Homo sapiens: one gene and its partner. The protein of the gene in region 2 interacts with the protein of the main gene of each other region in a pairwise test. Each region holds a gene or a part of one and is shown on either strand. Other genes may lie near its edges. The genes, in order: VSTM1 and ADGRG3.

Region 1 (8,264 bases), on a different chromosome or scaffold from region 2:
TGGCTGGGATTACAGGTGTGCGCCACCACACCCAGCTAATTTTTGTATTTTTAGTGGAGATGGGGTTTCACCTTGTTGGCCAGGCTGGTCTTGAACTCCTGACCTCAGGTGATCCACCCATCTTGGCCTCTCAAAGTGTTGGGATTACAGGAGTGAGCCACTGCACCTGGCTCATTTATCGTTTGTGTTGGGAATGTTTCAAATCTTCTCTTCTAGCTATTTTGAAATATACAATATATTGCTGTTAACTATAGTCACCCTTCTGTGCTATTGAACACTTGAACTTATTCCTTCTATCCAACTGTGTTTGTGCCCATTAACTATCCCACCCCTTCTAGCCTTTGATAACTGACTCTCTCTTTACCTTCATGAGATCTACTTTTTTAGCTCCTACATGAGTGAGAACATGAAGTTGTAAATAAAGTTTTATTCTAACACCGCCACACCTACTTGTTTACATATCAGCGATGGCTGCTTTCATGGTACAACAGCAGAGTGGGGTAGTCTCAGCAGAGATCCTACAGCCCACAAAGCTGGACGTGTTACTCTCTGGTCCTTTTGTTTTCTGCCCTCTGGTCTAGGAGTTTGCAGCTCTGGGCGTTTTTTGTTTTTTTTTTTTTTTTTTTTTGAGATGGAGTCTCACTCCATTGCCCAGGCTGGAATTCAATGGCGCCATCTCAGCTCACTGCAATCTCTGCCTCCTGGGTTCAAGCGATTCTTCTGCCTCAGTCTCCCAAGTAGCGGGGATTACAGGCGCCTGCCACCACGTCCAACTAATTTTTTATTTTTAGTAGAGATGGGATTTCACCATGTTGGTCAGGCTGGTCTTGAACTCTGACCTCAGATGATCCACCCACCTCGGCCTCCCAAAGTGCTGGGATGACAGGCGTGAGCCCGGCCGTTTTCTTTTTTGCTTGTTGTGCTTCCTGGAGATGCTCAGTAATTCTTACATTCTTTCCTGGATAGCTGGTCAATCATTATTTATTATTTCCTTGAATTGTTCTAGGAGGAAATGTGGGGTAGAAAGAGTATGGTGGGGTTCTTGGGCATGAATAATCCATAAATAAGTCAGATTTCTTTTTAAGACGAGAAACTTAATTTTATTGATATGGACGAAGAGCAAGGAAACACAGTATCTGCATCTCCAGATTTCCGATAACCTTGGCCAGCACGATCCCCCCTCCTTTAGTGGCCAGGGCTGTCTTCTTGCTACACTTTCAGTGCCGCATATTCATGAGATCCTGGGGGCTCCTGGGTGGTGTCTGAAGCTGCCTCAGACAGGGCGCTGGTGCTTAGCTCAGCATAGGTCACTCCTTGGGGGTCTGCCGTCTTTGGAGAAAATAGATGAATATTAGAACTGAGTGTTCAATATGGCAGCCACTAGCCACACATGGCTATTGACATTTAAGTTAATTACAATTAAATTTAATTTAAAACCCAGGTCCTCGGTCACACCAGATGCATTTCTTTTTCTTTTCTGTTTTTATAACCCTTTATGCCTGTGACATCAATGGATCTGCGTAAGCCTTTTTTCATTTTTTTTAAATTTTTATTTATTTATTTATTTTGGGACAGAGTCTGGCTCTGTCGCCCAGGCTGGAGTGCGGTGGCGTGATCTCGGCTCACTGCAACCTCCGCCTCCCGGGTTCAAGCCATTCTCCTGGCTCAGCCTCCTGAGTAGCTGGGATTACAGGCGCCCACTACCACGCCCAGCTAATTTTTTGTATCTTTAGTAGAGATGGGGTTTCACCATGTTAACCAGGATGGTCTCGATCTCCTGACCTCATGATCCGCCCGCCTCGGCCTCCCAAAGTGCTGGGATTACAGGCGTGAGCCACCGCGCCCGGCCCATGCATAAGCCTTTTAAATGGAGATTTTGGTTCCCATTAGGGGAGTTTCGTGACTTGTCTAAGACCACATGCGTGATAAACAGTATACATTTCTGTATGGGCTTAACCAGGAGGCACACACGACCAGCCCATTGTGGTGAGGGAGCTCTTGTGGGACTCCTAAGCGGGAGGACTCACCGAGAGAGATACCCTTTCCATATTGGATAAATCTGCCTCTGAGTGAGAAAGGAAAAAAAAAAATCAGTTCTCAGCTGCAGAAGTCAGAACTTAGTCTTTCTATCCGGTGATTCCCTTAAACTTCCCCTGTCCCTTACCGGCAGCCTCCTGCTCCGGAAGTTTGGAATGGCTGGTTCTGAAAGAGAGAGACACACGTGAAAGGATGGGATGTGAAGATTTCGGGGAGAGGGTGAGGGCAATGGAGGGGAGAGGAAGGGAGAAGAAGGGAGAGGAGGAAGGTCACAGAATGGGCTGGGGTGGGGGCTCAGGGTGCCAATCCCGGATGTGCCAATGGGTTCCCTTGAGAATGACATGGGAATAAGTGGAGCATGAGCTATGCCAAGCATCTACCTCTTGGTGGATTCCTCAGATGATGAACCTACAAAAAATGCAGGAGGAATTTACCTACCGAGAAAATCCTTCACTCCCCCTCTCTCCCTTTGCGTTCTCTGAGCTCACTGTGCTGGCTGCATCTGTAGATGATGAAGACTGAGAGGAAGAGGAGAAGGATGGAGATGCAGCTGAAGATGGCGACAAAGATGGTTCTGGTGTCTGGAGGGGGAAGAGCAGGTCAGGGAATCAGCCTGGCTCCTGAAATCCACTGATAGGGGCGAGCCGAAAAGCTAAGAGAAGCCAGACAGATGGCCTGGCTTCCAAGCCTGGATCTCCCACCTCGGAGCTGGAACTTCCTATTGCTTTGGGGAATTTCCTTAATCTTCTCCAAGCTTCTGTTTCCCCATCTGTAAAGTGAGGATAGCAGCAGTAGCTACTTTATTGGATGGTGGGTCAGTACCTATAGAAAGGGCTGGAACAGTGCTTGGCGCATAGGAAATTCCAAAAATTCCCAGGGAATGTTTGGTGCATAGCAATGATATTGATCATTTATTGTGAGCCAGCTCTGTTCCAGGTGCTCCATATATATATATACGTGTGTGTGTGTGTATATATATATATAAATGTATATATATGTGTGTGTATATATAAATGTGTATATATATATATATATATATATATATATATACATATATATATATATATACACACTTTTTTTTTTTTGAGATGGAGTCGTGTTCTGTCACCCAGGCTGGAGTGTGATCCTGGCTCACTGCAACCTCCACCTCCCTGGTTCAAACAATTCTCCTGACTCAGCCTCCTGAGTAGTTGGGATTACAGGCGTGAGCCACCACATCTGTCTGTGTAATCACTGTCTGAAATCCACTGATGGGGTGAGTAGAAAAGCTAAGAGAAGCCAGACAGATGGCCTGGCTTCCAAGCCTGGATCTCCCACCTTGGAGCTGGAACTTCCTTGGAGCTGGACATTTCGACCAATAGACTTTGAGTAAAGCAGATGACCCACTGTCATAGGGGTGGGCCTCATCCAATCAGTTGAAGACTTTAAGACTTTAAGAGAAAAGACTGAGGTCCCCCAAGGTGGAAGGAATTCTGCCTCCAGACTCAAGCTGCAATATCAAGTCTCCCCTGGATCCCCTGCCTGCCTGCCCTGCAGATTTCAGACTTGCCAGCTCCCCACAATCACGTGAACCAATCCATTAAAATCAATCTCTCTCTCCATATATGTATATACATGTATATGTTCTCTTTTTTTTTTTTGAGACAAAGTCTCACTCTTATCGTCCAGGCTGGAGTGCAATAGTGCAATCTTGGCTCACTGCAAGCTCCGCCTCCCGGGTTCAAGCAATTCTCCTGCCTTAGCCTCCTGAGTAGCTGGGATTACAGGTGCCCACCATCACGCCCGGCTAATTTTTGTATTTTTAGTAGAGACGGGGTTTCGCCATGTTGGCCACGCTGGTCTTGAACTACTGACCTCAGGCAATCTGCCTGCCTCGGCCTCCCAAAGTGCTGGGATTACAGGCGTGAGCCACCACACCCAGCTTATATCTATATGTTCTATTGGTTCTGTTTTTCTGGAAAACCCTGGCTAACACAGACATGATCTCAGCTCTTAACTTCAAACATATTTCCTTTTTCTTTTTTTAAAGGAGAGAGAGAGATGTGAAAGGACGGGATGTGAAGATTATGGGGAGAGGGTGAGGGCAATGGAGGGGAGAGGAGGGGAGAGGAGGGAGGTCACAGATGGGAGCTCAGGATGCCAATCCCAGATGTGCCAATGGGTTCCCATTGTTGCCCAGGCTAGAGTGCAGTGGTGTGATCATACTCGAATTCCTGGGCTCAAGTGGTCCTCCTCACTCGGCCTCCAGGGTAGCTGGGAGTACAGACCACCACGCCCAGCCAACTTCAAACACACTTCAATGAGCTCGTTGATGCCAGGTAATGAACAGCAGTGACACGGGCATGGAAGGCGTTTAGAGTGGGGAGGGGTGGGGCTCTCTGAAGGAGACATGATTCCCCAAGACACAGAACAAGGGATCAGCTGGGAGAATTCAGGGAGGATTCCTAATAAGAACAGGGTTAGAGCAGGGTAGAAAAGAATGACCAGTGGCCGGGCACGGTGGCTCACGCCTGTAATCCTGGCACTTTGGGAGAGTGAAGTAGGTGGATCACTTGAGGTCTGGAGTTCGAGACCAGCCTGGCCAACATGGTGAAACCCTGTCTCTACTGAAAATATAAAAAATAAGCTGGGCATGGTGGCGCACGCCTGTAGTCCCAGCTACTCAGGAGGCTGAGAGAAGAGAATTGCTTGAACCTGGGAGGCGGAGGTTGCAGTGAGCCGAGATCGCATCACTGCATCATACACTCAACTGACCAAGACTCCAACTCAAAAAAGCATCCCTCTCAGGAGATAAAATTTCTACCAATTAAAAAACAAAAACAAAACAAAACAAAAAAAACTAGTTCTTGAGCAATATTGCCATGCAAGTCTACATCATAGCGTTTTAAAGTCTTAACAACAACCCTGCAAGGTAGTACAATTATTTCCCTCCCACTGGTGAAGGGCATGCATTCCCGTGTGACTCCTGGGATTACAGCAAGGGTTGTGTCCAAAGCTCACAGCGTTGAGGAAGAGAGAGCAACCTGTTACTAAAGCTAGGCGACAGAGTCCATGCAGTTCCCCCCCGTTTTTTGTTTTTCTTGGCACTTTAGATTCAAGAAACACAAGTCGTGAGACTTTAAGGAGTAAGTAGCAGAAACGTGATTAAGGAAAAAAGTTGAGCAACTATAGAAGTGAGGCCCCAGAAAGGGGCTTCACCAAGACCCCCGCTATCTTTGTTAGTGTGCTTTGAGTCTGAGAATTTTTCCTAGGTGTGCAATGATCTGTGGTCACATTACAGAGCCAAGTCTGAGATGCTTCACACGCCTGGTCCTCTGCACCAACAGAGGGTCTCCCATCCAGACGCTTCCCCTACTTGGTTCGCTATGTTTGCATTGGCATTTCTACATATCTATATATAGAGAATTACCTATCTAATTTATCTATCTCGCTAATCTATCTACCATCTGTCTAGGTATCTATTATCTATCTACCTATCTATCTTTATCTGTCTCTGTACCTACTTACCTATCATCTATCCAATCTATCCGTCCTATCTAATTATGATTTATCTATCTACCTACTTGCCTATCACCTATCCAATCTATCTATCCTATCATATGTAATTAACTATCTGTCTGTCTAATTTTTCTATCTTGTTAATCTATCACTTATCTAGGCATCTATGTATCTATCTTTATCTGTCTATCCACCTGCTTACCTGCTGTCTGTCTAATCTATCCATCCTATCATATCTAATTATCACTTATCTATCTACCGACTTACCTATCATCTAGTTACCAAATCTATCATCTATCTAATGTATCTATCAATCATAACCAGTTATCTATCATCTATCATCTATCATCTGTATGTATCTGTCTATTCACCTACTATTATCTATTTAATCTATTCTATCTAGTTATCTATCTATCTATCCACCTACTTATCTAATTTTTCTATCTTGCAACTCTATCACCTATCTAGGTATCTATGTATCTATCTGTGTATCTGTATATCTATCTATCTATCTAGCTAGCTTTATCTAGCTACCTAGTTACCTATCATCTATCTATCTAATCTATCATCTATCTAATGTATCTATCAATCATATCTAATTATCTGTCTATCTAATCATCTATCTTATCTATTATATCTAGTTATCTATCATCTAGCTAGCTAGCTAATCTATCTGTATCTATCTACCTACTTACCTATCGTCTATTTATCTATCTAATCTATCATATCTAGTTATCTATCTACTTACTTATCTAACCTGTTGTATCTAGTTATCTATCTACCTACTTACCTATCATCTGTCTATCTATCTAATCTGTCCATCGTATCTAGCTACTTATCTACCTATCATCTATGTATCTATCTAATCTATCATATCTAGTTATCTATTTATCTGCCTACTTGCCTATTATCTATCACATCTAATTATCTATCTATCCCCCTCCCTGAAATAAGGTTCTTTCTGAGCTGATCATCAGGGAGCAGCAAAAGGAGTGGGGAGTTTGAAACAAGACATATTTGAGTTCTAGTACTGGGTCTCCTACCTCCTGACTTTGTAAATGTTCCCTTCCCTTTCTGGAATACGTTATTTTTTGGTTAAATATAAGGAGGGGGCAGAGAGCTAATAATATCTAACTTGAAGAGTTAGGTAATGATGAAAAATCCTGGCTTTAAAGCGCTCAGTCTAGAAACTGACTCATTGTGTCGGATAATGGGATTGTAGGTATAATGATGATTTTTTTTCACCCAATATTCCACCTACACCCATCTCTCTCTGTAATAGATTCTGTCAATGTTCCTCAACCCATGTTCCCCAGATCCCTTTCCCATTTTTATGCATTCTAGATCGTGGCTTCTTTCCCTTTCCAAAGTGAACATTTGTATCTCTTCTTTGGGGGACTGCCTGGGAGAACTCCAAATGCCTTGGAATTTACATGCCCGGGACAAACTGCCACTGACGGCTGTGGGGACCCCAGCTCCCTAGCCTCTGGTCTTCGACCTTCTCTGTCTCCACTGCTTTCTGCAGGATGGAGCCAAAGATACCATCTGAGGGACACAGATATCCCACACTTGTTTAATCTATTTTCCTCCCAGCCCTTCTTCCCCACTCCCTAAAATGTAATTTTCAAGCCAGGCGTGGTGGCTCACACCTGTAATCCCAGCACTTTGGGAGGTCGAGGCAGGCAGAGCACCTGAGGTCAGGAGTTCGAGACCAGCCTGACCAACATGGAGAAACCCCGTCTCTACTAAAAATAGAATATTAGCTGGGTGTGGTGGTGCATGCCTGTAATCCCAGCTATTTGGGAGGCTGAGGCAGGAGAATCTCTTGAACCTGGTAGGCGGAGGTTGCAGTGAGCCAAGATCACGCCATTGCACTCCAGCCTGGGCAACAAGAGCGAAACTCTGTCTCAAAACTAAATAAATAATAAATAAAATAAAACGTCACTTTCACACTAATGCTGTCTAAGAGCCTGCTTCTGGTGGAGCTGAATCAGAGAACCCCTCAAAAGCAACAATTTTTTTTTTTTTGAGACAGTCTCACTCTGTCTCCCAGGCTGGAGTGCAGTGGTACAATCTCGGCTTTGGAACCTCCCCCTCTGGGGTTCAAGCAATTCTCCTGCCTCAGCCTCCCAAGGAGCTGGGATTACAAGCACCCGCCACCTCACCCCGCTAATTTTTTATATTTCTAGTAGAGATGAGGTTTCACCATGTTGGTTAGGCTGGTCTCAAACTCCAGAGCTCAAGTGTTCTGCCCACTTTGGCCTCCCAAAGTGCTGGGATTACATAAGCCACCATGCCTGGCCATAAGCAACAATTCTATCAGTGCATCTCCAAGGACTTATGAAAACAGGGCAGGAACAGCTGCTCCTGGACTCTCAGTTTCCCCAGATGGAAGCAGAGAAACAGCAGCCTTGCCTTGTCCTTTCTGTTCTCCCCTTTTCCAGCCTACGGTATCTTTCACACAGCAATTCACTAGAAATGAGAAGTACATTATTGCAAAATTCTCATCTTCATATGACCCCATAATCAGCTGAACTGGGTTCACCCTGAGATGTCCACAGATCCTGGCCAAATGTTGCATCAGTATTTGCAAATTGCCAGAATAAATCATAACTTGCTACGCTACTAAAGTCAGCGTGAGCAACAAGATACAGCCTGACACGGGGCATAAATGGAGGCACAGGCACCAGAAAGAAAGTCAAGTCTTGTGTGATAAAATTCATCTTCAT
Region 2 (8,861 bases):
AGACCAGCAGCAGCAGCGTTGTTAGGAGCTTTTTGGAAACGCAGCCTCTGGGCCACCCGGGCCCTGCCACATCAGAATCTGCATTTTCACAAATGCCCAAGGGGTCACGTGCACATGATAGGATCAGGAGCCCTGGTCTAGGGGAAGGAAGCTCCAGGCAGAGGGAGAGGCAAGAACAAAGATCCTGAGGTTGGAACCGGTTGTGTGTAGGAAGGACAGTGAGGGAGAGCGTGGCCAGATGGCGGCGGGTCGGGGCGGAGAGGTGGGATCCCAGGGCAGGGTCATGATGGCTCTGGCTTGATGCCAACAGGGTCCCTTTCTGTGCATGTACCTGTGTGTGTACATTGAGGTGCACACACAGGCATGCACACCCCTCTGTTCCTGGCCGTGCAGAATGGAAGGGGGTTGTATGGCCAGGCCCAGGGGCTCTCATGGGGTTCAAGGCCAGCCTCCCATACAGGGTCACCCTAGAATGGGAGCTGGGAGTTGGTGGTGGGGAGATGTTACCACATTTCGGTTATTTAACATTCAAGCCTTCATTCCTGCCTGTGAGATGAGGGGACTCAGGATTGTAAGTGAGGCCCATACATTCACACAGACATTTACTAAGCTGTGGATACATCATAGTGCTATTAATTTGAGGGGTGCAAAATCTCACAGTGCTTAAGTGGGTGGACTTCAGAGCCTGTTCACCACAGTTTGAGCCCTGGCTCAGCCACGTCCCTTTACCTGAGCCTCCTGGGCCTCAGTTTCCTTGTTTACAAAAGAGAATAGTAATGAATAGGATGGGCCTAGGAAGTTTGTGACAGTGAGAGGCCACACGGGGACGCAGCACAGTGCCCGGCTCATAGGAGGTGCTCGCTGGGTCTCATGGGTGCCCGACAGCACGTGCTTGGCAAACACTATGGAGAGGTGGGGCAGACCCGAGTCACAATGGCTGGGGAGGGAGGAGGAGGGATGGGGTGGGGCTCCCCCACCTGCTGACCCCGTGCCCTCACTGCCCGCAGGCTTCCTCATCTTCATCTGGTACTGGTCCATGCGGCTGCAGGCCCGGGGTGGCCCCTCCCCTCTGAAGAGCAACTCAGACAGCGCCAGGCTCCCCATCAGCTCGGGCAGCACCTCGTCCAGCCGCATCTAGGCCTCCAGCCCACCTGCCCATGTGATGAAGCAGAGATTCGGCCTCGTCGCACACTGCCTGTGGCCCCCGAGCCCGGCCCAGCCCCAGGCCAGTCAGCCGCAGACTTTGGAAAGCCCAACGACCATGGAGAGATGGGCCGTTGCCATGGTGGACGGACTCCCGGGCTGGGCTTTTGAATTGGCCTTGGGGACTACTCGGCTCTCACTCAGCTCCCACGGGACTCAGAAGTGCGCCGCCATGCTGCCTAGGGTACTGTCCCCACATCTGTCCCAACCCAGCTGGAGGCCTGGTCTCTCCTTACAACCCCTGGGCCCAGCCCTCATTGCTGGGGGCCAGGCCTTGGATCTTGAGGGTCTGGCACATCCTTAATCCTGTGCCCCTGCCTGGGACAGAAATGTGGCTCCAGTTGCTCTGTCTCTCGTGGTCACCCTGAGGGCACTCTGCATCCTCTGTCATTTTAACCTCAGGTGGCACCCAGGGCGAATGGGGCCCAGGGCAGACCTTCAGGGCCAGAGCCCTGGCGGAGGAGAGGCCCTTTGCCAGGAGCACAGCAGCAGCTCGCCTACCTCTGAGCCCAGGCCCCCTCCCTCCCTCAGCCCCCCAGTCCTCCCTCCATCTTCCCTGGGGTTCTCCTCCTCTCCCAGGGCCTCCTTGCTCCTTCGTTCACAGCTGGGGGTCCCCGATTCCAATGCTGTTTTTTGGGGAGTGGTTTCCAGGAGCTGCCTGGTGTCTGCTGTAAATGTTTGTCTACTGCACAAGCCTCGGCCTGCCCCTGAGCCAGGCTCGGTACCGATGCGTGGGCTGGGCTAGGTCCCTCTGTCCATCTGGGCCTTTGTATGAGCTGCATTGCCCTTGCTCACCCTGACCAAGCACACGCCTCAGAGGGGCCCTCAGCCTCTCCTGAAGCCCTCTTGTGGCAAGAACTGTGGACCATGCCAGTCCCGTCTGGTTTCCATCCCACCACTCCAAGGACTGAGACTGACCTCCTCTGGTGACACTGGCCTAGGGCCTGACACTCTCCTAAGAGGTTCTCTCCAAGCCCCCAAATAGCTCCAGGCGCCCTCGGCCGCCCATCATGGTTAATTCTGTCCAACAAACACACACGGGTAGATTGCTGGCCTGTTGTAGGTGGTAGGGACACAGATGACCGACCTGGTCACTCCTCCTGCCAACATTCAGTCTGGTATGTGAGGCGTGCGTGAAGCAAGAACTCCTGGAGCTACAGGGACAGGGAGCCATCATTCCTGCCTGGGAATCCTGGAAGACTTCCTGCAGGAGTCAGCGTTCAATCTTGACCTTGAAGATGGGAAGGATGTTCTTTTTACGTACCAATTCTTTTGTCTTTTGATATTAAAAAGAAGTACATGTTCATTGTAGAGAATTTGGAAACTGTAGAAGAGAATCAAGAAGAAAAATAAAAATCAGCTGTTGTAATCACCTAGCAAACTGGCGTAAGCATTTTGGGTCATTTCCTTCTGAGCTTTTTCCTGTGCTTCTATTGAAAGAGTCACTGATACTAATACAAATACCTTGGGGCCAATCAGGAAACATGAAAGAGAGAAGAGGGCTGTGTGTGAAGAAAAAAAAAAAATCGACTGCTGGAAACCTCATCAACCAGGGCACAGGGGAAGATAAATGGCAACTTGGTGTCTGTGCTGGGGAGGCAATGGGGAGTGGTGGGGCCTGTGGCGAACTGGAGACTCCCAACCCCATGCTGAGAGCGTGGCTGCTCATCAGCTCCAGCTGGTCACTACCTTGCAGGGATGAGGGCCCATGTAGCCAGACCACCTGCCTTTTATGAGAAATGGGAAATCCAGACTGTGGTTTGACATCCCCTGATTTTAAAATTTTGGCGAATCCAAAACATTTTCTGGCCAAAGAGATTACAGTCAAAAGCTGCCTGGTCCTGGGATTTATGCAACCAGTTTACTGATCACTCTGCAGCAGGTGGGCTGCAAGAATTAAATCACTGGACTTCTCTCCCATCCCTGCCTTTAACCTTGTTCCACCAAATCAATCTCTCCTCCCGCTCCTAAGGCCCAGGTGAGGCAGATCACGCAGGTTCCCATCTTCCCTGTGATGAGGGCAGTCACAACGGATCATTGCTACTGTGTTCAGGTAAGAGGTCCCAGTGCAGCCAAAGTCCTCCCCAAGGCCCACAGTCCACTCTCTCCCTTCTGCAGGCTCCTCCCTCCTCCCCTGGCCACTCTAGGGGGATGCCCAGCAGGGGAAGAGGCTCAGAGTCTTGGATTGGACAAGGTGGGTGTGAGGCAGCTGGGTCTAGACTGGCAGTGCCCTCTGAGGGGCGTGAATGTGGGATCTTGGGACCTGCAGGGACCAAGAACCCCTGTGCCCTGCTGCTCTCCCAGCCCTCCCTCCACCCCCTCCACTCCCTCCACTGACCTCTGTCCCCACCTTTCTGCAGGTGGGGGGCTCCTCTTATGCCCCCAGCTCCAAAGGACAGAGGCCAAACCTTCCCAAGCCTCCCCTACCCCAGTGTCCGGATTGGGCAGCCCCGGGGGATCAAAGCCAGCTTCCCTCCTTACAGGCTTCTAGGTCTCCGTGAGGGGGGTCTCTCAGAGCCCCATGGCTGGGCTAGGTCCTGGGATGGGGGTTGAGGCAACTCCCCCCATCTTCCAGAATGGGGGGGAAATGACCCAGCCCCGTTCCTCCGCAATTCTCCTGCTTCTCAAACATTTTGTTTCTGCATCTGAGGCTGGCTCAGGTAGTGGGGAGGGGTCTTGGGTTGGGTCTCACCTTCTCAGGTAGGCCCTGCACAGGGCACCAACAGTTCCATGCTGATCCTTTTACCCCGATGGTTATTATCATGCACTTTCCCAGGCTGTGGGGCTTTGGACAGTGGGATCGCCCTTTCTGCCAGCATGTGGCCAGGCGTGCATCTGGAAACATCCCTTTAGCTTGGGAAATGGATTGGAGCAGCTGAGGGCTGAATGCTGGCTGGGTCTCGCTGGAGGACTTGAGGCCCTGCCCACTGGAGCCATTGGGAGAAGCTGGGGCAGGAGGCGGCAGGAAGGGACACTACTGTTTTGTTGGCCCTGGGGTTGGGGGGGGTCTCAGGGTTCTGTGAGTGGCTCCAGGCTAGTCCCTGGTCCCCAGGGGGCGTTTCAGGGAAGGGGCCTTAGGAAAAGGTGGCCCTCCTTCCAGCCCTGCCTGACCTTCCCCTGCACCTGCCCTCTGCCCACTTCCCAGGTGGGCTGGCTGCTCGGAATCTCAGTCTGCTCACCCCCAGGCGCTTCTTCACACACTGGTACCTGCGAGCCTCTCTGAGGGCCCAGGTGCCAGGATGGGGCTTCAGCGATGGGCCCAGCACATCCAAGTCCACTGCCCCACCTCACCCTCACCTGCAGCTGGGAGGGAGGTCTGCAGATCTTCCAGGAGAAGGCTGGCCAGGTGTGGAGCAGTGGCAGGCCCAGCCATTCATCTGCCTTCGCAGCCCTCCCTGCAGAGGAAGTTTCTGGGGCTCAGGAAGCCCTGGGCTCTGACCTGCTGCTCCATGCTGAATTCCCACCTGCTCCCACACCATGAGTGACCCTGACATCCCCTCCCTACCCCTTCCCAGACCCAGAGGGCTCAGCAGGAGACACTGAGTGGGAGGAGGAGGAAATGGAGGCCAGCAGGGGCTGAGCGGCTCCCCAGTTCAATCCCAAGGCTGAGTAGGGCTAGTGCCAGCCCCGTGGGCCAGAGGGGGATGCCAGCAACCACACACCTTGGTGGGATGCCCTTCACCTTCCAATTGCCAAGTGGCCATGGCCTCATGCACAGTGCATCCGTGGGGCCTCCAGAGTTGGCCCGAGTGGCTGGCGCCCTAATTCCTTTAGGCTGAAGCCCAGGAGTGTTTGCCACCCCCACCTCCCACCTGATCAGTGACCATTTGGGGTGTAAAGACAACAATTTCACAGCTCTGATGATCAGAAATGATGTAATGGCCACAGGCGGCTCCGCCTGCGTCATCCATGATTTCATCACACACCTCGGGAGGCTCAGGGTGACAGACAGTGCATGCAAGGTCACCCGGCCAGGAAGTGGCCAGGATGGATGTTAGCTCAGGCCTGACCAGCCCCCGGGGCCGCACTGCTGTCTTCCCGCTACCCTGCCTCTGGGTCCGTCCTGTTATCCAGGCTGGTGGGGGAAGCTCAGGCTGCAGGGCCAGCTCCTGCTCTCCTCCCACACCCTCCAGCCTGGTTCAAGCCATAGGCACCATCTGGGTCTTCGTCCTCATGCCCAGAGCCAGGCTCTGTGCCCAGCTTGTTGCAGGTCTCATCAAACCCTGACACAGCCTTAGGAGGCAGCCCCATTGCCATCTTCACTTTACAGAGGAGGAAACTGAGGCTCAGAGAGGCTCCCAGCTTGTGAGAGGAGGGGTCTGAGTAGGTGCGCCTGACTCCAAAGCCTGTGCTCACCACAGTTCCCAGGGATCCGCTCTGAGCCAGGCCCCTGTGGCCACCCAGCCCCTAGCCCCGTAGATCCCACCCCAGTGGGGCCCCGGGGGCACATACCTGGGTGGGCTCAGCAGCTCCCTCTGCAGGTGGACCCAGGGTGCGGTGAGACTGGGAGCACTGCCCAGTTCCCCACACTCACCTTTCACAACCCAACCAATGGCGCCATCGAGCAGGAAGGGTGAGAAAGAGGACACAGGAAGCCAGAGTGGTGGGGCTGCAGGGTGGGGGCAGGCCAGCTCAGCAGAGCCTGGGGCCAGAGGGCCAGACAGCCACAGAGCTCCTGGCGTGGGCAAGGCTGGCCAAGGATGGCGACGCCCAGGGGCCTGGGGGCCCTGCTCCTGCTCCTCCTGCTCCCGACCTCAGGTGAGTGGCTGGCACCTCATCCCCTCCTGCCACGCTGGGCCGACCCTGCCCTGCCGAGGGAGGGATCCAGGGACAGACGCAGGGACTGGAGAAGGTGAGGAGTTGGGGTGTCTGGGATGTGTCCTCCGATACCCCCCGTGGCCGCCTCAGCACCTTCTCTAGCCCTGTCCCTTTGGGTCAGTCCTGTCCTTCCACTAAACCTTGCTCAGGACTGGTCTCAGGTTCCCTTTGTTGCTCCACAGTGCCCTGGAGATAGGGGAGGTCGGAGGGTGCTCCCTGACTCCCCAACCTGGGCTGTGTCTCCCTGACAGGCCTGGCTCTGAGACAGGGGTTGGCCCCGGGCAGGCAATTCTCCAGCTGGCTTGTGAGATCCTGGGGACGGGATTCAGACACTCTGGAAGCTGAGGCCAGGAAGGTCTGTCACCTCGTTCTTCTGGACCTCTCCTCCCGCACATGTCACCCCACACCGGCTCCCTCTCCCAGTCTCAGCCACAACCTCTTGGTCCTCAGTGGCCTGAGCCAGGATCCACACTCCTCCCCGTCACTCTCCCGTCTCACACACAAACACATGGTGCGTCTCCAGAGGCCATGGAAGTGCCCGGGCCTTGCCTTTGCTGGCCTCTCTCCCAGGAAAGCTGTCCCCCTACCCCTTGCCCACTTAGCCAGCTCCATTTACCCTTCTTGGCCTCTGTGGCGTCTTAGCAACCCTCTCGGACAGAGGGAGGTGCTCCCCCGTTAGTGCTCCCTCCTCAGTGCTCCTGTCTCAGGGCCTTGCAGGCCACTCTCTTTTTGCTCCTGACTCGGTGAGGGGCCTGCATGTCCATCTCCCTGTGTGTCCAGCGTGTGGTCGCGTGACTTTGGCCACATAGATCAACTTATTTGGTCTTCAAATAACCCTCTTCTTTTCAAACATTGGAAGATTCAGTGGAGTGAATCAGTCCCTGGCTCAAAAAAGGGTGGGAGATGACAGCACTGTCCTCCTAGTGGCCCCGGGAGGCCCTGGTACAGAGCAGGCCACCAGGCAGCCCTTGATAGATGAATGAACGGAGCCACCGATGGCAGCTGTGACCAGGGCTCATGGGCGTCCTCAGGTCCCAGCTGTCATCGCTGGTTGGGCCTTCAAGCCTCCTCCAGGTGATGCTGTTTCCCCCATGGTGATGTGGGTGCTCTGGTTGGGGCAGAGCAGCAGCCATTTGATTGAGCAAGGAGCTCTGAGAGGTCTACACACAGGAAGGTCTGCACACTTCCTGTGTGGACAGTGATGTGTTAGTCTCCATTCTCCATTTGCGCATTCATTCATTCATTCATTCATTCAGGAAGCATCGATGGTGCCCTCTGCTCCTGCTGGTACCACTTGGCCCCTGCCCTCAAAAGGCTCACAGTCTGCAGGAGTGACACAGTGTGGTGGGGGCTCGCATGTGAGACCCAGCTGTTAGGGCTGAGCAAGGGGTGGATGCAATGGAGGGCCTGGCATGAAGGGACACGTGACAAAGGTGCGGGCAGGGCACGGGGAGCAAGGAGGGTGGTCACTGGGCAGGCTGGCACCTGGGGCAGCCTTCAGCACCGTGAGGTCTAAAGGGGCCAGGAGGGAGTGGCCCCCTGGGCTTCTACAGCCAGACTGTGGCTACAGGAGGGAAATGGCGGTGGTTTGCTCACGGTGAGCCAGCAGGGGCTGAAGGAGCCATGCGGGGTGGGGGCAAATGCCCACTCTGCCCTCCTCCTGCCCTCTGACCTCCAGTCCACTTTCCACTTGCTGACCCCCAAATGAGGCAGTCCATGGAGGCCAGGCTCTGGAGCATAGAGGGTCTGGAGAGGAGGGGAGTGCTATCCCACCCACAGGCCTAGCACAGGGTCTCCTTGTCTACATGAAATGCTTGCAGTGTCTTCAAAGAATAAACACAGAAAAGATATTTAATGATCCTGTCTGTGTAGGGTGCTTGCCAAGAGCTTCACTTACATGCCTGCGCTGAAATTCATGGCAATCCGGGAGGGAGGCCTGCACCTGGACCCATTCATGACAGCAGGGCCGGGATGGCAGAGAATGGCACCCGTCCTCAAGCTGACAATGTTATCTCCCCTCCTCTCCTGTCCTCTTCCTTCCCCTCTCAACCCCTCCTCCCCTCTCCTCTCTTCCCTCTCCCTGTTTCTGTCTTCTTCCTCCTCTCCCTCTTCTCCCCTTTTTTAAAAAGCCAACATAGATCATACTATATTCATGCTCATCTATCATTTTCATTTCCCATTAAACAATGCATCATAAATATCTTTATAAACTAACAGAAATTTACAGTTCCTTTATAAACTATCTAAAACGAATTATCACATATAGAGTCCATTATTACAAAATCCCCTCTAAAATGTTATTTTTTTACCCTGCTGTTACTCTTTATTCAGCCATTATTTTTATCATGTCTTTTTTGTCTTAATGATTAAAAATGAACAGTTTTTTAAAAAATGTGACAGTAATACTGGACATGATTTTTAAAAAATCAAATACCAGGGAGGGAAATAAAAAATGGAAAGCAGATGAGCCCCTGCCCGCCTCAGCCCCCAGCACCACCCATCGCAGAGGGAGCTCTCCTAACACTTCCTGGGGGTGGCAATCCGAAAAGTGACAATGCAGAGCCAAGACCCACTTCCCACCCTCAAAGGGAGAAGGATACAACAAAGCACTTCAGAGTAAAAGACATAAAAGTGGCCGCAGATATACAGGTAGATGCTCAAACTCCTTAAATGGAAATAAGATTCAATGTCATCCCTCAGACTAGCAAAAATCCAAAAGTTCAGTAAGCTATAGAATAATAGGCATGTGGATAGTCACTCTTATCCACTTTGAGTGAGAGTATAAATAGGTACACCATTTTCTGGAGGGAAATTCAATAATACCCGGCAGTTTTTTAAAG

The links.
Region 1: the proteins of ADGRG3 (region 2) and VSTM1 interact in binary tests that used the Homo sapiens proteins (3 or more experiments, as listed by UniProt).

What each region holds. Positions count from the first base shown.
Region 1 is NC_000019.10:54,039,752-54,048,015, forward strand, and holds the end of VSTM1 (V-set and transmembrane domain-containing protein 1 isoform 1 precursor), read right to left. Parts: intron 2,807-8,264; coding exon of another isoform or gene 2,739-2,806; intron 2,619-2,738; coding exon 2,526-2,618; coding exon of another isoform or gene 2,476-2,525; intron 2,446-2,475; coding exon 2,418-2,445; intron 2,203-2,417; coding exon 2,165-2,202; intron 2,066-2,164; coding exon 2,028-2,065; intron 1,330-2,027; coding exon 1,210-1,329; 3' UTR 1,074-1,209; downstream 1-1,073.
Region 2 is NC_000016.10:57,662,445-57,671,305, forward strand, and holds the start of ADGRG3 (adhesion G protein-coupled receptor G3 isoform 1 precursor), read left to right. Parts: upstream 1-5,861; 5' UTR 5,862-5,903; coding exon 5,904-5,961; intron 5,962-8,861. Other genes in the region: ADGRG1 (adhesion G-protein coupled receptor G1), read left to right, coding at 1,008-1,138. UniProt on the Homo sapiens protein: Adhesion G-protein coupled receptor (aGPCR) for glucocorticoid hormones such as cortisol, cortisone and 11-deoxycortisol.